4 separate regions of the Homo sapiens genome follow, and regions 1, 2 and 3 are each linked to region 4. Evidence: fine-mapped QTL for protein levels in blood plasma. Region 4 holds a variant in brackets. A gene starts in each other region. All regions are shown on their reverse strands.

The links. PIP is the chance, under the fine-mapping model, that this variant and not a neighbour inherited with it causes the effect. The UK Biobank Pharma Proteomics Project read protein levels with antibody pairs (Olink). The fine-mapping took linkage between variants from a reference panel, not from the people measured, so its PIPs are less certain.
Region 1: it holds the start of IL12RB1, and the variant in region 4 is fine-mapped to the plasma level of the IL12RB1 protein (UK Biobank, PIP above 0.99).
Region 2: it holds the start of CD300A, and the variant in region 4 is fine-mapped to the plasma level of the CD300A protein (UK Biobank, PIP 0.96).
Region 3: HAVCR2 starts here. The variant in region 4 is fine-mapped to the plasma level of the HAVCR2 protein (UK Biobank, PIP above 0.99).

The regions. Positions count from the first base shown.
Region 1 is chr19:18,084,503-18,089,502 of GRCh38, reverse strand. IL12RB1 (interleukin 12 receptor subunit beta 1) reads left to right here and starts at 2,569. Exons shown (of 17, transcript NM_005535.3): 1 at 2,569-2,743. The coding sequence starts at 2,680. RefSeq lists enhancers at 2,238-2,297, 2,308-2,657.
Region 2 is chr17:74,463,649-74,469,693 of GRCh38, reverse strand. CD300A (CD300a molecule) reads right to left here and starts at 3,060. Exons shown (of 7, transcript NM_007261.4): 1 at 2,951-3,060. The coding sequence starts at 2,990. LOC124904056 (a long non-coding RNA gene) reads left to right here and starts at 1,920. Exons shown (of 2, transcript XR_007065899.1): 1 at 1,920-2,144; 2 at 4,944-5,686. RefSeq lists an enhancer at 1,919-2,048 and silencers at 2,409-2,468, 2,509-2,568.
Region 3 is chr5:157,107,502-157,113,559 of GRCh38, reverse strand. It overlaps HAVCR2 (hepatitis A virus cellular receptor 2), which reads left to right and starts at 4,516. Exons shown (of 7, transcript NM_032782.5): 1 at 4,516-4,634. The coding sequence starts at 4,577. RefSeq lists an enhancer at 4,580-4,729.
Region 4 is chr11:60,381,486-60,387,770 of GRCh38, reverse strand. MS4A7 (membrane spanning 4-domains A7) reads right to left here. Exons shown (of 7, transcript NM_021201.5): 2 at 4,483-4,642; 3 at 2,549-2,683; 4 at 998-1,054. The coding sequence starts at 4,629. Among named protein-coding and RNA genes, the nearest start is that of MS4A7, 6.1 kb to the right of the region's middle. The variant C/T (reference allele first, on the strand shown) is at 2,660.

The sequences.
Region 1 (5,000 bases), not on the chromosome of region 4:
CAGGTGCATGCCATCACGCCCAGCTAATTTTTGTATTTTTAGTAGAGACTGGGTTTCACTGTGTTGTCCAGGCTGGTCTCGAACTCCTGACCTCAAATGATCCACCTGGCTCGGCCTCCCAAGTGCTGGGATTGCAGGAGTGAGCCACCGCGCCCGGGCCGGAAATTCATCATTTTAAAGCAAACGATTCAGTGACATTTAGCACATTCAGTGTTGTGCAACCACCACCTCTATCTGGTTCCAGAACATTTGCATCACCCCAAAAGGAAACCCCGCATACATCAGCAGTCACTTCTCACTCCCGCCTCCCCCCAGCCCCTGACAACCACTCAGCTACTGTCTGCCTCTGTACATTTGCCTATTTTGGATATTTTATATAAGTGGAATCATACAGTGTGTGCCTTTCCTGTCCATCTTCGTCCACCCAGCATGATGGGTTTTTTTTTTTGTGTATGTGTGTTTTTTTTTTTTTGAGATGGAGTCTCACTCTGTCACCCAGGCTGGAGTGCAGTGGCACGATCTCAGCTCACTGCAACCTCTACCTCCCAGGTTCAAGTAATTCTCTCTGCCTCAGCCTCCCGAATAGCTGGAATTACAGGCACATGTCACCAGGCCTGGCAAATTTTTGTATTTTTAGTAGAGACAGGGTTTCGCCTTGTTGGCCAGGCTGGTCTCAAACTCCTGACCTCAGGTGATCCGCCCACCTCGGCCTCCCAAAGTGTTGGAATTACAGATGTGAACCACTGCACCCAGCCCAGCATTATGTTTTTGAGGGTTCATCCACATGGTAGCTTGGATCAGAGCTTCTCCACTGACATTTAGAGGCTTTGCCGACAGTGGGGAGGGAGGGGCAGGAAACAAAATACTCAGAGGCTAAGAAATGGAACATGGGGGAAAGACTAAGTTGCATCTCTTAAATTTTTTTTTTTTTTTTTTTAAGAGACAGGATCTTGCTCTGTTACCCAGACTGGAGTGCAGTGGCACAATCACGATTCACTGCAGCCTCAACCTCCTGGGTTCAAGCCATTCTCCCACCTCAGCCTCCTGAGTAGCTGAGAATACAGATGTGTGCCACCACGACTGGCTAACTTTTAATTTATATATATATATATATTTTGAGATGGAGTGTCACTCTGTTGCCCAGGCTGGAGTGCAGTGGCGCGATCTCGGCTCACTGCAACCTCCACCTCCTGGGTTCAAGCGATTCTCCTGCCTCAGCCTCCTCAGTAGCTGGGATTACAGGTGCCTGCCACCACACCCGGTTAATTTTTGTATTTTCAGTAGAGACAGGGTTTCACCATTTTGGTCAGGCTGGTCTCAAACTCCTGACCTCGTGATCCACCTGCCTTGGCCTCCCAAAGTACTGGGATTACAGGCGTGAGCCACCGCGCCTGGCCTAATTCTTTATTTTTTATAGAGATGGGGTCTTGCTATGTTGTTTAGGTAGACCCAAACTCCTGGGGTCAAGTGATCCTCCCACCTCGACCTCTCAAAGTGCTGGGATTAGAGGGGTGAGCCCAGGTGCACAAGGCTGGAGCTTGGCATGTGGGGAGGTGGGCATTGTGGAGGGCCAGCATGCTGCAAGCTCTTTGTAACAATTTGTTGGAAGGATGAAATTAGGCCATCCAAGAACACTGCCCTCCTTCAGCTCTTGAGTCTCAGATTCAGAAGCTGGCGAGATGGCCCGGTGCGGTGGCTCACGCCTGTGATCCCAGAATTTTGGTAGGCCAAGGCGGACGGATCATTTGAACCCGGGAGTTTGAGACCAGCCTGGGCAACATGGCAAAACCCCCTCTCTTAAAAAAAAAAAAATGCAAAAATTAGCTGGGCGTGGTGGTGCATGCCTGTAGTCCCAGTTCCTGGGGAGGCTGAGGTAGGAGGATGGCCTGAGCCTGGGGAGGTTGATGTTGCAGTGAGCCGTGATTGCACCACTGCACTACAGCTGGGCCACAGATCAAGACCCTATCTCAAAAGAAGAAAAAAAGAATTTGGCAGCCAGGCACGGTAGCTCACGCCTGTCATCCCAGCACTTTGGGAGGCTGAGGTGGGTGGATCACTTAGGGTTAGGAGTTCGAGACCAGCCTGGCCAGCATGGTGAAACCCTGTCTCTACTAAAAATACAAAAATTAGCTCGATGTTGTGGCAGTTGCCTGTAATTCCAGCTACTCGGGAGGCTGAGGCAGGAGAATTGCTTGAACCCGGGAGGCAGAAGTTGCAGTGAGTGGAGATCATGCCACCACACTCCAGCCCGGGCGACAGAGCAGGGCTCCATCTCAAAAAAAAAAAAAAAAATTGGCTAGAGAGGGCCAGAGACCTGGCCAAGTGCATGGAACCACAGGTGGCCCATGGGCCCATGGGGCTGGCATCTGGGTGTTCAGTTCAGGTCTGGGGCCAGCAGGGCAGAACCCCCTAGAACCCTGACTTGCTCCAAAGTCAGACTTGCTCCAGAGTCTGTGGCCGCCACCATCACCACCACCACGGAGCTGACTTCCTGGGTTTCTCTTTCACTTTGACTTGCCTTAGGGATGGGCTGTGACACTTTACTTTTTTTCTTTTTTCTTTTTTTTCAGTCTTTTCTCCTTGCTCAGCTTCAATGTGTTCCGGAGTGGGGACGGGGTGGCTGAACCTCGCAGGTGGCAGAGAGGCTCCCCTGGGGCTGTGGGGCTCTACGTGGATCCGATGGAGCCGCTGGTGACCTGGGTGGTCCCCCTCCTCTTCCTCTTCCTGCTGTCCAGGCAGGGCGGTGAGTCCCCTGACCCTGGCATGGCGGCTCCTCTTGCTGGGTGGAGGCACGTGTATGTGTGGAGAGCTGTGGGCCTGCTGTGTGGGTTGGTTTCATCTCTCTGTGCCTCAGTCTTTCCTGCTGTCAAATGGGAGATGGGCAGTCATGGCTTCTGGGATCGAACTTAGACATCTTTCCTCTGGTCTAGATTTTCTCTTCTGTGAAATGCACTAAATTTTTTCCACCTCCCGGAGTTCAATGAGAAAAAAAACTAAGGAAGGAATAAAAAGCAAGTATGTATCTAATAGGTATACATAGTATAGTATCTTATGTATGTAGTTTACAATAGATAGACATACATAATATAATGTATACAGTCATTTCCATATTTACGGGGCAATGGTTCCAGGACCCTCTGCAGATACCAAAATCCAAAGATGCTCAAGTTCCTGATATAAAATGGTAAAGTATTTGCATATAACCTATGCACATCCTTCCGTATACTTTACTTATTTATTTATTTATTTATTTATTTATTTATTTATTTATTTATTTACTGAGGTAGGGTCTCACTCTGTGTCCCAGGCTGGAGTGCAGTGGCCTAATCATAACTCATTGCAGCCTTGACCACCTGGGCTCAAGTGATCCTCCTGCCTTAGCCCCTTGAGTAGCTGGGACTGCAGGTGCACACTACCATGCCTGGTTAATTTTTTTGGTGTATACTTTTTACAGAGACAGCGTCTCGCTGTGTTGCCCAGGCTGGTCTCGAACTCCTGGGCTCAAATGATCCACTCACCTTGGCCTCCCAAAGTGCTCAGATTACAGGCATGAGCCACCATGCCCAGCCTTCCCATATACTTTTAATAATCTCAGGCCCTGCACGGTGACTCACTCCTGAAAATCCAGCACTATGGGAGGCCAAGATGGGTGGATCACTTGAGGTCAGGAGTTCGAGACCAGCCTGGCTAACATGGTGAAACCCCATCTCTACTAAAAATGCAAAAATTAGCCAGGCTTGATGATGGGCACCTGTACTCCCAGCTACTTAGGAGCTGAGGTGGGAGGATCGCTTGAACCCAGGAGGCAGAGGTTGCAGTGAGCCGAGATTGCAGCACTGCATTCCAGCCTGTGTGGCAGAGCAAGACTCTATCTCAATAATAATAATAATAAATAAACTTTCCTTCTCTGTACACTGGGGATCAGCGGGGTGCTGACTTTTTCAATGGCTCTTGAGATGCACTGAGTGCCTGTAGAATGCCCACAGCAGTGCTGGCCACACCTCAAGGTCCCAGCGCCTTCAGGGGCCAGGCATGGCTGGAGACCAGCAGCAGGGAGGGGGCGAGAGGCAGCCCACGAGGTATCCTGGAGATAGTGGCAGTGAGTGGTCAGTCCAGGGAAAGGGAAGGAGGATGGGCTTTAGGCTCTCAGGGGTGGGTGGGTGGGTGGGGGTTCTGTGTCATCACAGAGAGAGATGGAAGGATGGAGAGCCTTGTGTGTTAAGCATCTTTCCCCCCTCAAGGTTGGACACTTGGGGCTGTTTCCTGGGGTGCCGCCTTCTCCCCCAAGGCTTCCAATCTGCCTGCAGGGCTCAGGACAGGTCCTTCTTGTGGGAGTGAGGGCGCCGGGGTCTTCCTGACCCATCCATGGTGGCATCCCCCTCCTTCTCTCACCCAGTTCCACACCTAGCAGACTGTGGCAATCCCAAAGGGCACGGGGATCCCAGTGGCTGAGGGAGGTCGCTGCCTCCTGGAGAAATGTTATTAATAATTGCCCTGACTGCTAGTGGGCCAAGTGTGCTTGCCTGGGCCAGCCCTGGCAGGCCTCTCCCTGCCATGCACCCTCTACTGTCTTTCCCCATGCTGGCTTCAGACACTGGTGCCACCCCAGGCACACCTCCACTTCTCTCTGCCCTCCAGACTGTTGGTCTTACTGTTCTTTCCTGCAGGGGTACCTCCCGAGAGTGTCTCCCAAATATGCATCTCAACCTCTGAGGACTAAAGGGTGGTGGATGAATGGATAGACAGGTGGATGGGTGGGTAAATGAATGGATGGATGAATTAATAAATACATGTATGTATGTATGGATGGATGGATGGATGGATGGATGGATGGATGGATGGCTGGATGGATATATCGGTAGGTAGATAAATGGATGGATGGGTGGGTGTATGGATGAATGAATACGTGGATGGATAGATGGATAGATTGGTGACTAGATGGATAGATGGATGGTTGGGTGAATGGATAATGGATTAATGAATGCATGGATGCATGGATA
Region 2 (6,045 bases), not on the chromosome of region 4:
CACTACCATGCCTGGCTAATTTTGTGTTTTTAGGAGACACGGGGTTTCACCATGTTGGCCAGGCTGGTCTCAAACTCCTGACCTCAAGTGATCCACCCGCCTTGGCCTCCCAAAGTGCTGGGATTACAGGCGTGAGCCAACGTGCCTGGCCTCAAACAATTAATTAGACTAGTAGGTAGTCAGACCAAAAATAAAGAAGACGCAGATATAAAATTCAAAAGAAAAATTTGCAAATCTCTGCAAATAAGTCTGCAAACCTGGGCGACACTGATGATTTTTTAGGAAAATATAAATCATCAATGTAGGCCAAGAATAGACTTTTTTTTTTTTTAAGAGACGGGGTCTTGCTTGCTATACTGCCCAGGCCAGTCTCGGACTCCTGGGCTTAAGCTATCCTCCCACCTCAACCTCCTAAAATTCTGGGATTACAGGTGTGAGCCACTGCACCCAGCTAGATTTTTTTTAATGTAGACCAAAAATGATGAGTGTTATTAAGAAATTCTTTCCCTTCCATCAAAAAAAAAGAAGCAAAACTCAGACAGTTTTACAAGCTAGTTCTCTAAAAACTTCAAGGAACAAATAATTTCAATTTTATGTAAACATTTGCAGAGAACACGGAAACAGGGAGATCTCCCTAATTCTTTCCATGAAGCCAGCATAATAAATCAAGACAAACATCTGACCAGATCTCCTAATGTAGTTCACCTCCTTCATAGCTGAAAGGATAATAATAATAATAATTTCTATAAATAATAAAAATGGTATTTTGTGGGGGCCGGAGGCCAAGGCTGGCAGATTGCCTGAGCTCAGGAGTTCGAGACCACCTTGGGCAACATGGTGAAACCCCGTCTCTACTAAAATACAAAAAAATTAGCCAGCAGTGGTGGTGGGTGCCTGTAAGCCCAGTTATTCAAGAGGCTGAGGCAGGAGAATCACTTGAACCCGGGAGGCGGAGGTTGCAGTGAGCTGAGATCAAGCCACTGCACTCCAGCCCTGGGTGATAGAGTGAGATTCTGTCTCCAAAAAAATAAATAAAAATAAAATAAAAAATGTTTTGTAGGGGCCAGGTGTGGTGGTTCATGCCTGTAATCCCTGCATTTTGGGAGGACAAGATGGGAGGATCCCTTGATCCCAGGAGGTGGAGGCCAGCCTGGGCAACATGGTAAGACCCTGTCCCTAAAAAAAATTAAGAATCCAGCTGGGTGTGGTGGCACACACCTGTAGTCTCAGCTACTGGGGAGGTTGAGGTGGGAGGATCACTTGAGCCCGGGAGGTGGAGGCTACAGTGAACCGTGATTGCACCACCGCACTCCAGTTTGGGTGACGGAGGGAGACCCTGTCTCAAAAAAATAAAAATGTTGGCCAGGCTTGGTGGCTCACGCCTGCAATCCCAGCACTTTGGGAGGCCAAGGTGAGTGGATCACCTGAGGTTGGGAGTTTGAGACCAGCCTGACCAACATGGAGAAAGCCCATCTCTACTAAAAATACAAAATTAACCAGGCATGGTGGTACATGCCTGTAATCTCAGCTACTCGGGAGGCTGAGGCAGGAGAATCACTTGAACCTGGGAGGCGTAGGTTGCAGTGAGCCAAGATCGCGCCACTGCACTCCAGCCTGGGCAACAAGAGCAAAACTCCATCTCAAAAAATAAATAAATAAATAAATAAATAAATAAATAAATAAAAGTAAAAATGCTTTGTGAATAGTCATTGGTGGATCCCTTCTTCCTAATAATGAGAAGCTCTGGTCCTTTTTCCCTGAGTCAGCAACAAGGCAGGGACAACCACTACCACTATGTCCGCTGGGCCTCACTCCGGCTGTACCAGCCAATGAGTCAATGGGAGAAAGAGAAACAGATATTAGACAGGAACTGAAACCTTCCCATGCACACCGACCCTATGAAACAGAAGAACACCCAAGAGAATCGCAGGAGCACCTGTTATGGGAGGATGACCCGTTTCCAAGTCAAGACACCAAAAGTAATAACCTTCCCACAGACAAGTAGTTAGCAAATATAATTGCAGAAAACCTCCGATCTGTAAGGAAAGCAACCACAAAGACGTACAATACCCTAGGACTAGGCCTGAGGAGTCTGCACAGGAGCTGTCTGAGGAGAGCGGTGGACGTGACTGAAGGCACAGCAGGTGACTCTGCGGGAGGAATCCCTGCGCTTGGACAGGGAAGACTCAACTCCACGCTTCTCCCTAAAGAAGATCTCAGCGCTTCTCTGCCCGATCTTTTCCCTCCTCGCCCTCCCCACCACCTTTTCTGTCCCCTCTGTCCCATATCCCCTTCTTGGAGAGGACTGACCCCTGGTTCTCAGGCCCATGCAGGGGCTAACCCCAGCCAAGGCTGCCTCGGGACTTCCCCCTGCTCAGGCCCCAGCCGCTGGGCTGCCCTGGTTAAATCTCCGCATTCCAGAGACTATCGATCTGCTCCCCACCCCGACCCTATCTCCCTCACCGCCCCACCCCCTCCTCCGTACCCTGCACCTAGTGAGGCCGGCATCTCCCCCACCCTCCCCACACCCCCCTCCTCCATACCCTGCACCCAGTGAGCCCGGCATCTCCCCCACCCTCACCACATGCCCCTCGCAGTCAGTGGCTGCCACTCTCCACCCACCCTGACACATCCTGCCTCTCGTCCCCCTTCCTGTAAGAATTCAACTGAAAACCTAAAAGGTCCCTTTTCTGCACCCACCCCTTATCACTTGCCCCGCTGTGGTTCAGCCAAGGTACGTGGGTGCAGAGCCGGGAGAGGCCCTGGCTCCTTCCTCTCCCAGGGGTGTGGACCTTCATCTGTCCATCTTATGTGGTAGACAGAGCGCACCGCATTCTGCGTTCTGCACGGAGTCCAGACTCGGGGCGTCTCGTGTGATACCTGCCCTGCGGCCCTGCCCCTCGCACCCTCCCTCCCTGCCGCAGACTTTCCCGGGAAGGGAAACTCTCACCTGGGACCCAGAGAAGCAACAGAGCCCAAGGCAGCCACATGGTCCCTTCCCCAGCACAGGCGGCACTTGCAGCAGCTCCAGGCCCTACCTGGACCCGAGGGGAAAGTCACGCCTCCAAGGCCCCGACTTCTGCTTTTCTTGGTGCCGCGCTGCTTCCTTGTTCAGCTTCTTTTGGTTCTATTCCTGGAGCCGGTCAGAAAATGCAGGAAGCTGGTGAGCCCCGACTAAGACTCCCTAGAAACGGCACGTCCTCCTTAACGCTGGTTGAGGCTGCAGGTTCTTCGGCTATTTCTAGTGATGAGACCTCTCCCTGTAGTGACTCCGTAGCTTGCAGGACTGATCCCCGACTCTCACTTCCCCGGGTCTCCTCCTAGTGGAAGGCCCAATAACTCCTCCCTCCTTTCCTTGTGGTCAAGGTGGGCAACCCTGGGGGTGGGACCCGCTGAGCTGGCTCCTCTCACCCTCGGTGGTGCCCACGAGGAGGCTGCCAGGGGGAACTCCCCTTTCCTGAGTCCCTTCCCTGAGTCCCTTGGAGGTCCAGGCCTGGGCTTCGGGGCTGAGGGAAGGGGAGTTGTCATCGTGACTCCAGAGTCCCTGAATGGTTCCTAGTCTTGGAAATGTGTCCTCAACTTGACACAGAGGTCCTCCGGCCATGCCTTCCTTTCTATATAGCCCCATTGGAGCCAACTCGGGGCTGGGCACAGAGCAGGGACTCAGCGAGCCTGCAAGGACCCCTTTCCTGATCCACACAGAGTGCAGACTCTAAACACACACACGCTCACACTCACATACACACTCACACCCACACACACTCACCCACACACATTCACAAACACACACTCACATACACACACTCACACTCACCCACACACATTCACAAACACACACTCACATACACACTCACACAAACACACTCACCCACACACATTCACAAACACACTCACATACACACTCACACAAACACTCACCCACACACATTCACAAACACACACAAACACACTCAGCCACACACATTCACAAACACACAAACACACCCACACATTCACAAACACACTCGCATACACACAAACACACATTCACACACCCACACACATTCACAAACACACACTCACATACACACTCACATGCACACATATTCACACACACCCACACATTCACACTCACACATACACACAAACACATTCACAAACAAACACGTTCATGCACATACACTCACATATACACACTCACACACACATTCACAAACACTTTCACAAACACATACACACACGTACACACAAACACATACACACATTCACAAACACGTTCATGCACATACACACACACACACAAACATTCACACACCCACACACAAACACACACAAACACACTCACACTCTCACATACACACACACTCACCCAAACACACTCACATACACACACATTCACACACACCCACACACATACACTCACACAAACACATTCACACACCCACACACATTCACAAACACACACATACGCACACATTCACAAACACACGTTCATGCACACACACATATACACACACACAAACACACAGGCACTCTCACCCACACACATTCACAAACTCACATTCACACACAAACACAAATTCACACACACTGATACAAACACACATACACATTCACACATTGAAACACTCAAATTCACACAACGCACTTACATATACAACTGAAATACACTCACACATTCACACACAAACTCACACACTGACACATTCACACACAGTGACATACACTCACACACACACAGTCTCACACACGTGCCTTGAGTAGGTGCCCCAGCTTGCACAGAATGACCAGGTGGGCACAGGAAATGCCACTCCTAATGTGTAATGCGTCACCTGGGAGCTTGCAGTCCCCAAGCTCAGAGTGTCCACCCACATGGAGCCCTGTGCCAGCTATGGGATCCCAAGAATATCCTTCCCTCTGGCCCTTTTTGGAATTTGTCACTTTCCTCTTCCTTCTGAACACAGGGGCGCCTTGCCCACGAAGGTGTCAGGAAGCCAAGGAGACCTATGGGCTCTGCTGCTGGAAGATTCAATGACAAAGCCTGGTGGACATTGTGGAAATTTTCATGATGATGCAGTCATAGATTAACTAAACCTCATTAAGATCCAAGACACTTCGGGCCGGGCGCGGTGGCTCACTCCTGTAATCCCAGCACTTTGGGAGGCCGAGGCAGGCGGATCACGAGGTCAGGAGTTCGAGACCAGCCGGGCCAACGTGGCAAAACCCTGTCTCTACTAAAAATAAAAAAAATGTGGCGGGCACCTGCAATCCCAGCTACTCGGGAGGCTGAGGCAGGAGAATCGCTTGAACTCGAGAGGCAAAGGTTGCGGTGAGCCAAGATCGTGCCATTGCACCCCAGCCTGGGTGACAAGAGCAAGACTCCGTCTCAAAAAAAAAAAGATCCAAGACACTTTGGATCATGACACTGTTGAGCTGAACATAAAAATGCAGGAGATGTGTCATATTCGGTGGCTTATGTGGCCTGATCATTGCAAAGTTTCTCAAAAATTATTTTTTGATTCAACCATGACCAAAAAGGCGCTGCTGCAATCTTGAACGTCCAGGCCAGACAGAGAAGCAGAAGGCTAAGTTCTGGCGTGGCTTGTCCACTTACCACCGAATGAACTTGAGCAAAGCCTGTGGCTTCTGTAAAACGTCAATAATGACAGCTCCTCTGTGGGAATAAATATTATTATGATTATACAAATACTGAAATGTCAGTGTTCCTTAACATCCTCAGGTCAGTTTTTTCTGAGGGAATATATCTCTACTTTTGATGAAAGGTAATAGGAAAATTGGATTCCACAGGAAGTGCGCTTTACACTTTAATCTATGGGATGCAATTCTCCTTAGGCACATAGAGAAACACCTGACTTACTGCAAAGGAGAAGGGATCAGGGGACTTAGACCCTGCCACGCCCATCCTGCTCACCCCATCCTGTCCACAAACCCAAAGGAAGAAACAAAATGGTGCAAAATAACCACAAAACATGAGAGTTTTTTGCCGGAAGTTGCACATTCCGGCTGTGTCCCGATAACCATCAGGTGACATGACTCAGGGGGAGG
Region 3 (6,058 bases), not on the chromosome of region 4:
TCAGGAGTTCGAGACCAGCCTGGTCAACATGGTGAAACCTTGTCCCTACTAAAAATACAAAAAATTTGCTGGGCATGGTGGCTCGTGTTTGTAATCCCAGCTACTCAGGAGGCTGAGGCAGGAGAACTGCTTGAGGCAGAGTTTACAGTGAACCGAGTTTGCACCATTGTGCTCTGACCTGGGTGATGGAGCAAGACTTCGTCTCAAAAAAAAAAAAAAAAAATTTAAATACATTTAAAAAAGAAGGTTGCATGCTGTGGAGCAACCAGACAATTGTGATGAAATGTGAAGCACAAGGCACCAGCTGTGACGTGTTTTTGCCAAGAAGTCAAACCACGTTCCAACTAAACCTCTAGAGCAAACTTTCATTTTCAGCAAATTCGAAGAAAAGAGGAATAATGTAAATGACCCCACAGGGAAACAGACAAACCCTGAATGTGGAGCATTTCACAGGACAAAACCTGGTTTGTATAACTGGTTTGTATAACCAATGGCAAGGGGGTGGAGGGCAGACTGTCTTCGATTAAAAGAGACTTGAGGGACATAGCAAACAAATGCAATGCTGGGACTTGTTTGGATCTGGATTTAAACAAACTGATTGAAAAAAGACATTTTTGAGATAATCAGGGAGATTTGGCTATAGACTGAAGTACTAGGTGCTTCTAAGGCATCATTAAATTTGTTATGTGCGATAATGATATTATGATTATATTAGCAGAATGTCCATTTTTGTTTGTTGGTTGGTTTGTTTTGAGACGAAATTTTGCGCTTGTTGTCCAGGCTGGAATGCAGTGGCACAATCTCGGCTCACTGCAACCTCTGCCTCCCTGGTTCAAGCGATTCTCCTGCCTCAGCCTCCCAAGTAGCTGCGATTACAGGCACCCACCACCATGCCTGGCTAATTTTTTGTATTTTTAGTAGAGATGGGGTTTTCACCGTGTTAGCCAGGCTGGTCTCGATCTTCTGACCTCAGGTGATCCACCTGCCTCGGCCTCCCAAAGTGCTGGGATTACAGCCGTGAGTCACCACACCCGGCTTCAGAATGCCCATTTTTTAAAAAGGAAGATTGCACACTAAAGTACGTAAAAGTGAAATAGCACGATGTCTGGGATTCGTTTAAAAATATTTCAGCAGACTCGGCATGGTGGCTCACACCTGTAATCCCAGCACTTTGGGAGGCTGAGGCAGGAGGATCCCTTGAGCCCAGGAGTTTGAGACCAGCCTGGGTAACCTAGTGAGACCCTTGTCTCTAAAAATAAATTAAAACAAATTTAAAAAAAAATAAAGGGCCAGGTGCGGCGGCTCCTGCCTGTAATCAGCAATTTGGAATGCTGGGACGGGCAGATCACCTGAGGTCAGGAATTTGAGACCAGCCTGGCCAACATGGTAAAACCCTGTCTCTACTAAAAATACAAAAATTAACCGGGCATGGTGACAGGTGCCTATAATCCCAGCTACTTGGGAGGCTGAGGGGAGGCAGAGGTTGCAGTAAGCCGAGATAGCACCATTGCACTCCAGCCTGAGAGACAAGAGTGAAACTCCATCTCAAAAAATAAATAAATAAATAAATAAAAATAAAATAAATAAAATAAATAAAATTTTAAAAATAAATATTTCAGCAAATAACAATAGGAAAATGCAAGTTTCAAAAAAGGTATATGGTATTTTGTCTAAGAAAAGAGAGTATGAGAATATATATTTTATTTTCTTGGGTTTGCATTGGGAGTATACACAAGAAACTTATGAAAATGAAAACCTGGTCGGGTGCAGTGGCTCAAGCCTGTAATCCCAGCACTTTGGGAGGCTGAAGTGGGCAGATTGCAAGGTCAGGAGTTCGAGATCAGCCTGACCAACATGGTGAAAACCCATCTCTACTAAAAATACAAAAATTAGCTGGGCACGGTGGCAGGTGCCTATAATCTCAGCTACTCAGGAGGCTGAGGCAGGAGAATCGCTTGAACTTGGGAGTCGCAGGTTGCAGTGAGCTGAGATCGTGACGCTGCACTCCAGCCTGGGTGACAGGGCGAGACTCTATGTCAAAAAAAAAAAAAAAAGAAAACCTATAGCATAGGTGGGAGAAATGGGGGTAAACATGGAAGGATGGGATCATGGGATCAAGGCTTCTTGAGCTTTTTATATTCCTTTTACTTTTTAACTATTTGAATGTATTATCTAAAGTTTTTAAGAAAATAAACAGGAAATAAAAGTTAAGTGAACATGAAAATGTTCAGAACCAGCTCCCTACACACACAAGAGAGTTAAAGGAGATCTCTAGACCCCTTCATATCTAGACTTTAATGAACTAATAAATTGTTAATGTTTTATAAAGCTGGTCTCAGTAGCAATTCTAGAAATGAGCAGAAAACAAAGTGGTAAAAACAAAACATCGCTGGGCACGGTGGCTCATGCCTGTAATCCCAGCATTTTGAGAGGCCGAGGCAGGTAGATCACCTGAGGTCAGAAGTTCGAGACCAGCCTGACCAATATGGTGAAACCCTGTCTCTACTAAAAATACAAAAATTAGCCGGGCATGGTGGTGTGCGCTCTTAGTCCCAGCTACTTGGGAGGCTGAGACAGGAGAATTGCTTGAACACAGGAGGCGGAGTTTGCAGTGAGCCGAGATCGCGCCACTGCACTCCAGCCTGGGCGACAGAGCAAGACTCTGTCTCAAAACAAAAACAAAAACAAAACAAAACAAAACACAGAAACTGAGGGCTGATGCTTTTAAGAGCCTTGACCAAGTTCATGCTGCTAATAAAAATAACCCCAGACCCCATATTTAATCTATTCTACCTTATGCTTGAATATGGTCATTTGCTGGTTATTAGTTATGTGGGAAGACAAACATTAAATTAATAAAACATAATTTATAGTGGAAAAAATCTGTCACTTAGGGGGCTTATGCTCTCATTCTAAATCACCAATCATGTGCCTTTCGGCAAATCAATTTTCTGAAGTCTCAGATTCCTTGTCTATAAAATGAGAAATTGGCCGGGCGCGGTGGCTATGCCTGTAAACCCAGCACTTTGGGAGGCCGAGGCGGGTGGATCGCCTGAGGTCGGGAGTTCAAGAACAGCCTGACCAACATGGAGAAACCCCGTCTCTACTAAAAATACAAAATTATCCGGGGTGGTGGCACATGCCTGTAATCCCAGCTACTCAGGAGGCTGAGGCAGGAGAATCACTTGAACCCGGGAGGCAGAGGTTGCAGTGAGCCGAGATCATGCCATTGCACTCCAGCCTGGACAAAAAGAGCGAAACTCCATCTCAAAAAAATAAATAAATAAATAAAAATAAAATAAAATAAAATGAGAAATTGATTATGATCTCTTGAGTAACTGCCACTCTGCAATGCTATGGGAAGTACACACATTGAACAAGTTGCATATTTATATTAAATGCCATTTGTTTATATTGAACAAATTTGGTATTTATACCCAATGCATTTAATGGCATAAATGTGAATGACAAAGAAACTCAGGAAGGCAAGACATAGAGGAAGGCCACTGGCTTTTCAGAAACCACTCAGCCTGTGAGCTCACTTCCCTTTTATAAAAAAAAGCTTTTGCTTTTAAGGTGTCCAGATAAAGGTCACACTCCCAGAGCTGAGGCTACGTGAGTCTAAGCTGTTACCTCAGTTATGGGAGTGTGGCTGGAACTCAACACTTTCTGATCATTCATGGCCAAAGCCTCTTGGGGTAGGGGAGAGGGGGCACCTTGTATGCATGAGATGAAACAGGATACCAAGATCCCCTTAATTCTACTCAGAGTAGAGGAAAGGAACTGTTGCCAAAAGGAACATGTTTTTTCTAAATTGAAGAGTTGGAAGTTTGAAGGTCAAAGTCAGAATATTAGAACAGAGAGCCATGCATGTATTATCTAATACAATTTTCTCATTTTATAAATTATATAAATGAGGAAACTGAGACTCAGCAAGGTTATAGGATACAACCTAATCTGTGTTAGAAGAAGGATGAGAGTGAGGCTTATGCTGGGAGTTGCTATGGTCTGTAAATGTGAGGATAAGGAACATGCCATTCACTGTTGTGTTCCACTTCCTAGTCCAGTGCCTGGTGCAAAGTAGGGGCTTCATAAACTTTGGTCACAGGCCTGATGAAGGGACTGATTTGAGTGAATGAATCCATGGATGATGCATCTGTACTTTGTGTTCCCCGCTAGTCAGATGGACTCGGACATGCTCCATTTCAGGTGTATCTCATCTGAGACATTATTAGAGGGTTCTCTTTATGTGCCATGACTGAGTAGCGTTTTCTTCCACTGAAGTATTGCTTCCTCTTTGTTGATATCACAGGACAGACATCAGAACACTTACAGGATGTGTGTAGTGTGGCATGACAGAGAACTTTGGTTTCCTTTAATGTGACTGTAGACCTGGCAGTGTTACTATAAGAATCACTGGCAATCAGACACCCGGGTGTGCTGAGCTAGCACTCAGTGGGGGCGGCTACTGCTCATGTGATTGTGGAGTAGACAGTTGGAAGAAGTACCCAGTCCATTTGGAGAGTTAAAACTGTGCCTAACAGAGGTGTCCTCTGACTTTTCTTCTGCAAGCTCCATGTTTTCACATCTTCCCTTTGACTGTGTCCTGCTGCTGCTGCTGCTACTACTTACAAGTAAGTCTCGGCATGGATATTTACAATGACATAATGGTGCTGTACAGAGGACAAGGGAGAGATACAAGGATGGCCATTGTAATGTTGTTTGTAATAGCAAAAGCTTGGAAGCAACCTAAATGTCCGTCGATGAGGGAGTGGGTAAATAAATGTGATATAATCATGATACAAACAGTGAGTCTGACAAAACATACTGGTATAGAATGTCTCAAAATTATAATGTTATTAAAGAAAAAAAGTTGCAGAATAATGCATATATTAGGCTTCTATTTGTGTGTGTGCATTGTCGGGGAGCAGGAATATGTGGACATTTCTTAATGTATAAGCTCTAGGAAAAGGAACCAGGGAATGGTAAAGAGTTGGGAGAGTAAGGCATATTTTTCTTTTCTTTTCTTTCCTTTTTTTCTTTTTCTTTTCTTTCTTTTTCTTTTTTTCAATTGAGATGGAGTCTCACTCTATTGCCCAGGCTGGAGTGCAGTGGTGGCACCATTTTGGCTCACTGCAATCTCCGCCTCCCAGGTTCAAGTGATTCTCCTGCCTTAGGCACCGGAGTAGCTGGGATCACAGGCGTGCACCACCACACCCAGCTAATGTTTTTAATTTTTAGTAGAGACAGGGTTTTACCATGTTGGTCAGGCTGGTCTCAAACTCATGGCCTCAAGTAATCTGCCCATCTCAGCCTCCCAAAGTGCTGGGATTACAGGCGTGACCCACCGTGTGCCCGGCCACTTTTTCATACACCTTTGATAGTGTTTGAATGTTTTTACTGTAGTTGAGTCATATGAAAACAAAGGGGACATAAAAAATCAAAAGAAAATATATAATGAATGTTTTATCATATATAAAATATATATAGTTTTTTTTTAATGGAATTAACTTTGTCATTTGAGGAAAATGAGGAGACAAGTCTCAATCATTTTAGGAGATTTGTTTGCCAAAGTTAAGGAGGCACCTGAGAGACAGGTCTATGACTTTCTCAGAAGATGATTTTGAGGGCTCCAGATTTAAAGGGGACAAGGTGGGATATTGAGAAGCACTCAGTTTTCACATAAAAAAGGGGGGGGGGCAGAGGAAAAATATGGGGAATCTGCATTTTACATTAGATAACACAGACAAAATGGGGTAGGGAAACAATCAGATAACGCATTTGTGTCTGGCCAGGGTGACCGCACCGGTAAAGATGAGCTATCAATCTGCATTGCACAGCTGACCAGGAATTTCCTTGTGGGCAAAATATGGGGGAGGTATGCAGCCTTTCATCCTGTAGCCATCTTATTCAGGAATCAAAAAGAGGAGGCAGGTTTCTGTGACCCAGTTCCCAGCTTGACTTTTCCCTTTGACTGAATGAGTTTGGGGTCCCAAAATTTAATTTCTTTTCACAACTTTAAACCTTAAAACAACTCCATGAGTAGTTTCAAATACAC
Region 4 (6,285 bases):
GGGTTTCTAGGGAGGGACCAAAGGTCATATTCTAGATGCACTTAGGGCAATATAATAATTCTAAAGTTGTTGAGGAAGCCAGGGGTATGTTGGCAGTGGCATGAGTGGTATTGTCTTTGAGTTTGGTGCTGCAATCAGTGCTGACATTGCAGACATCCCCCTCACCCCTACTCCATCACCCTCATTTTCTCCCACCTTACTTTAAACTGATTTTTTTTCTCAAACATCCAATTATCAAGCATGAGTCTTTGGATGGAAATAGTCTCCTCCAGCCTGGATGAAGACGGCAACACCCTCTTCTGACAGGGGAATGAATGCCTCCCCACCTGATATTTGACTGAAAGAAGTTTATTTCAGTTGCTTAAATAGTAGAACTTTGAAAATATATCATGGACTTCTTTCAACTTGTTACCACGGTCACAGAGTAGGGTAAACCAGTTATTCTGCTTTGCCTGGGGAGTAAGGGGTTTCCCAGGATATAGGCTTTCTGGGCTAAAACTGAGACAGTCCTGGGAAAACCAAACAATTGGTCACCCTGACGCTGAAGGGCTAGAATTTGTGTGAAGTCCCAACTCTATGAATGGGGACATTTGGCATCAAAAAGAACCCCAAGAGGCAGGTTTTATAGAAAAAAGGATCTGTAGGCTCTCTCTGGGATGGGTGGCTACCTTATTCAAGGTCAAGGTTACAAGCTATAAAGAGTCCATGGTACATTTAAAAATGTACACTTTTTAAATAACTGAGGTAAACCTCCTCCAAGCTTGGAATATAATCCAGGAGCAACATTGTGTAGACGAAAGAGCACTGGTCTAGAAGGCAAGAAATTTGGGCTCTACTCTTGGTTCTACCAATGGGACAGCCAGGAAAACCTGGGCTTCCTAGCCTGTTCTAAGCTTTTTCTCTCTAAATTGTAAAATAGGGATTTTTAAACTAGAAGAATTAACTCTGACGTTCCTTCAATTCCAACCAGCTGAGATTTGATGGTCCTTATACTTACAAAGGGCTTAGTTGATTGTTTTCCAGAGATAATTGAGAGGGATCCAGTAATGCCAAACTGCCCAGAAGAGAGAGAAATGATCAGTTCAGTTGTCTTGTGGAAATGTGCCCACCATGTCACTGTCAATCACTCAATCAAAAAGTGATGTTGGAAAACTTTTAGGGAGAGAACACTGCAGAAATCTTGTGGATCTATATTGCTAGATAGGCCTAATTCCCACCTGATATAAGAATGTCTATATTGACTTTGAATGACATGCAGATGCACAGAGGGGTTGGATTTGTTTTAGTGGAAATCACTAGGAACTGAGGAGGCCTGGAGAAAAGGTGTACCTGGGAAGGAGAAGAGTGTTACTAAATTACAGGGTTGAAAGAGAGGAGGTTGAGATGGACCAATGACTTGAATGGACAGAGAGATTGGAACAGCCAACAGAAGCACTCAGGAAAGAGGCTCTGATGGGACAAGGTGCAGAAACACATGGACTGGAAGTTATTGGTGTATGTTGCTTGAGTCAGAATGGGAGTCGAGGAAAGTGGGAAGAGCAGGCTCAGACGTGAAGTCTTTATCATAAAGCCCCAGAAATCAGTATTTAATCTCAGTGGTATTAAAGATCCAGCTGGCAGAGGAAGGGTATTCTGAGAAGCTGAAAAGTTGCTTAAGTGTGTGGCTTGGATATTGAATAATCACAGGCAAAGAGGGTCCAGTATGAGCTAACGCTAGCTTCTCTAAGGAGATGTGGGGCCCACAACCACTGGTTACAGGAGAAGTCAAGGACAAATTGTGCTCTGGGGCAGGACCAGGGCCTCCTTATGTGACTGCACAGTTTGTGTTCACACAGGGACTGTATCCACACAGAAGTGGTACCTTAGTATAGTTCATTTGCCCAGAATATTTGATTTTTATCCTTTGTACCAAATACTACGTGGAGAAGAAATAACCCTTTGTGGGAAGTGTGAGTCTGCCCTGGCCACTCTCTGAAAAATGGATCTACTGGGCCCTTTTTCATGAGCCATTAGGTGGAAGGCAGCAAAGAGAGTTTCTCTAGTGCTCAGGGTTACCTCTGGACACACAGCAAGCATGTCCCTGCCTCCCATGAATCTTACCCTTGTTAATCCAAATCTCTGCAAACCTGTGGCATCAACCAGTGGTGCTCGTTTTATTGTTTAAAAATGGCCTTCTCACTCTCTACCTGAAAAGTTGATTATTCTTACAATGGAGGGAATCCAATGGCCTCATCAAAGCCTCAAAGAGGGATATGGAAAATCATCCACTTTTCTAGAGGTATGCTGTAATGCCAGGTAAGAAATTCTGTGCTGGTATACCCATTGTATTACCATTCCCTCTTGCCCCCTGCTCTGCAGGAAGACAGATTAAGTCTCTCTGCTGCTCTTCTTGAATAGGGGAAATGTGACGTGGGGCAATGATAGAAGGAAAGTCGAGGCCTTGCCGCCTTTTGCCTCCTGGCCTCTTGGAGTCTGAGTCACTCCACGACTATGCACCTGGTTAGCATTTATAAAGCATGTCCCCTCTTAGAGTCCCCATTCTACTCACACACAGAGCTCCTAAAAATGGGTACCCAGACATCAAAGTGGTGGAAATTGCTGGATTGAAGTGGGAGGGGTAGGGAGCAAAAACCAAGATGGCCCCCAGACTTGAAATCAA[C/T]AGGCAACACAGGATCTGGACAGTCTACAAGAGAGAAGACAGGAAATCTAGACTGCACTTCAAACAGATAAAAGTGATTATTTGAATGCACACGGTAAAGTATAAAGAGTATAAAATACATTATAATTTGTTATATTAAAGAGGAAAAATGTTACAAGGAGCCAATCGATATGCTTCTAGAGAAAGTCATGTATAGCTAACCTCTTCTTTTCTGATAGGATTATTAAACCAGCAAATCGGAAAGTGATCATACACACATTTTAACTTTTTTTGAAAAAGATACTTGACAGTTTTTAAATTTATTTTCTTGAAAAGTAGATAAAAAAGTTGTCCAGTGAGGTGGAAATAGAGAGCAAACTTTTCACAGGAGTGTTAATGAAGAGATTTTTCAGTTGAAATTAGATAGAGCAGGTCATCTCTTCTGCTGTAATTCATCTTATTTTGTTCATCATTGGATTTTAATAATAATTATTTCGCAAGTGGAAGAACTGAAGTTTAGCTGTTAGCTTGCTCTAAAGCCCATGCTTTTGCTCATAGTTTAATGCATGTGCAATTGAAAGATGATGCAAACATAGGAGAAATAAAAAAAGAAGTCAACCATTCACATCATCAACAGTTATTGAATACCACAACAGGTATGTTGTGTGCCAGGCACGAGGGAATGAAGCAAATGAAAATCACTACCATTGGAGAGCTTATATGTGTACTATGTCTTGTCTGTAAAGGTACAGACAAGTTCCATGCAAGGCAGAATAGAGTTAAGAGCAAAGTAGTAGGACATGAGGCTTGTGAAGTACTGGAGGCATGGTACAAACTATGTAGGGATTTTTAGGCTATGTTTTACCAACTTTGCTTTTCATTTTGAGCAAAAAAGGAATCCCACTGGATAATTTTGAGCCAGGAGAATACATGATCTAACTTTCATTTTTAAAAGAGTACCCTACCTGCTGTACTAAGAATAGATTGTAAAGAAACAGGGCAGGGAGATCCATCTAAATAGGCAGTGAATAGGACCTGGGTATTATAAGAGGGTATTCAAAACCACATGGAGATTAAAGTTCTGGATATGAGGGATGATGATCTGGGACACTTGGATGTCTTATAGTTACTCATATGAACGGGGAAAAATGGGTCATGAGATTAGTCTTGATCGTCTCATCTCAAAATATTTGAAAAATAAGCTCAAAGTTAATTTAATCATATTGAGTAAAATCCATATGGTTAAATAGAAAATTTTTACTGTACTAATGACAAAATAAGAAAGACTAATTTGTGGCTGGGCACAGTGGCTCATGCCTGTAATCCCAGCACTTTGGGAGGCCAAGGCGGGCAGATCACAAGGTCAGGAGTTCAAGACCAGCCTGGCCAGTATGGTGAAACCCCATCTCTACTAAGAATACAAAAATTAGCCGGGCGTGGTGGCGTGCACCCATAGTCCCAGCTACTCGGGAGGCTGAGGCAGAAGAATCACTTGAACCCAGGAGGCGGAGGTTGCAGTGAGCTGAGATCGTGCCACTGCACTCCATGCTGGGTGACAGAGGGAGATTCTGTCTCAAAATAAATAAATATATAAATAAATAAAATAAGAAAGACTAACCTGTTAATTGTGAAGCATGCTAGTGAAAAAGATCTAGTGGTTTTAGTTTCTAGAAACTGCTGCAGAGCTTTAAGAGTCTTCCCTTAAAGCTCCATTTCATGTCCTCATTAGCCTGGAGTCAGCCAGAAAAGAGTGAAAGAGTTTCCCAGACCCACTGTAGATCTGTAGTCTAGATACATTTACAAAGTATTTTCTCAGTATTCCCCTTATAATGAGGTGGACTTACCCCAAGAACGGTGGTTTCTGTTGGCAGCCCGTTCTGCAGGTAATCTTCGTTTTGGTACATGTGTCCAGGTTTCTCTCTTTGAGGGATAGTGATGCCCTTTGGTGTAAAGCTGTGAGAAACCCCCATGGTTTGGGATTGTAATAGCATGATGCTGATGATGCTGGAAGAGGCATCAAAACTCAGTTACTTCCCAAGGTTTGACTTACAGACATAAACTTCCCAGGGACCATACTTTGTAGGAACTTAAGAAGGTATTTGCCATTATTCCAAGGCTGGTTGTCCTTCAGAAACAAAACATGGGGATCAGTGGAGCATTGGAAAGTGGGCATGCTGGGCACAGTTCATCCATTGTGGTCAAGAAGCATGTCACTGGGAGAGTACTGTACACATTTTGAGGGGTCCCACAATTGAGAGGTGAGCAAATCACATAGAACTTGCTTTGTAGCCCTGAATGTGTCCATCTCCCTCTCCCTCCAGTGACCTCTGCTTCCAGCTTCCCTTCCCTATCTCCTGTATCTCTGCTTCACTTGTGCTACCTTCTCACACCACATCTTCCAGGATTACACTTTTATGCTACACCTGCACTGATCAGTCTTCTACTCCAGTCTTCATTTTGTCTTCGTAAAAATGTTGAGGATGAATGCTGTTCCACTTTCCTTTCCTATAGCGAGATGGCCTGTCCCATCCGGAATCTTCCTCCTTGCTTATATTGGCTTCGTAATTAGTAATGTAAACATTTACTTAACTCCTGCTGAATTCCAAGCATTAGACCATTGCAGCTCTAATCCTTATAACAACCCTGTAACTTACATGTTATTAAATCAATTTTATACATTAGAAACCTGGGGCTAATAAGCTCAAGTGACTTTTATTGAATGAAATAGTCACATAAAGTACTTAGCCTGGCACTTAGAATGTGTTCAATATATGGTAGCAAATATTAACAGCCTGTGTTTACATGACTGGATTGAGACTTGTCTGGCTCAGACGCTTGTGATATTTTTTTCTCTATGCCATGTTAATTCTCCTCCTCTTCCTCTTCCTTCCTTTCTTCCTTCCTAACATTTCCAGTTCCCTTGTAGATTCCAGGAGCAAGTTGTCTGCCACCACTAACTCAGCAGCATTGCTGGGCCTCTGTGGTGTCAGCAACAAGGCTCAGCACCTGAAATGTTGCCCAGATTTGTTTTCAGCTCAACATTCTCCCTACTGAAGGCCAGAGTTTAGTTAAAGGCTTGTCATCCTTGAAAGGTGCCACAGCTCTGCTGCCTGACATTTTGCCTCAATGTGTTGGTGCTTTAGGAATGGTTCTGGCCTCTCTTGGGTGGAGTGAAGAACATGTAAAAATTGGAAATGACACCTAGAATCTCTTCCTAGTGAGGGAGATGGAAAAGTGCACTGGGATGGGAGTCCAATGCCTAGGCATCTAGTTGCACATCTGACCATATGTCTTGGAGTCCAGTCGTGTGTTCAGATCCCATATCCACCAGTTACTGCTAAACTCACCCTGGGCAAGGTATTTTCACCACTTCATAGGTTTGTGGTACAGGTTGGATAAGATGACACATATAATGGACTCAGCATAGGGGGAGGCATGTGATAAACTCCCAAAACATATCAGTTTTATCTAATATTCATTGGAAGCCCAGTTCTGATATTGATGAGCTGGCCGTAGGCAGGATACTTTCCCTCATTCATCCCCAGTTTCCTTATCTGTAAAATAAGGATAATGACACTATCCTGAAGGACTCTTGTGAGGATTTGAATGACACACGTGAGTGTCTTTTGTTGTAACTCTCTGAGTTT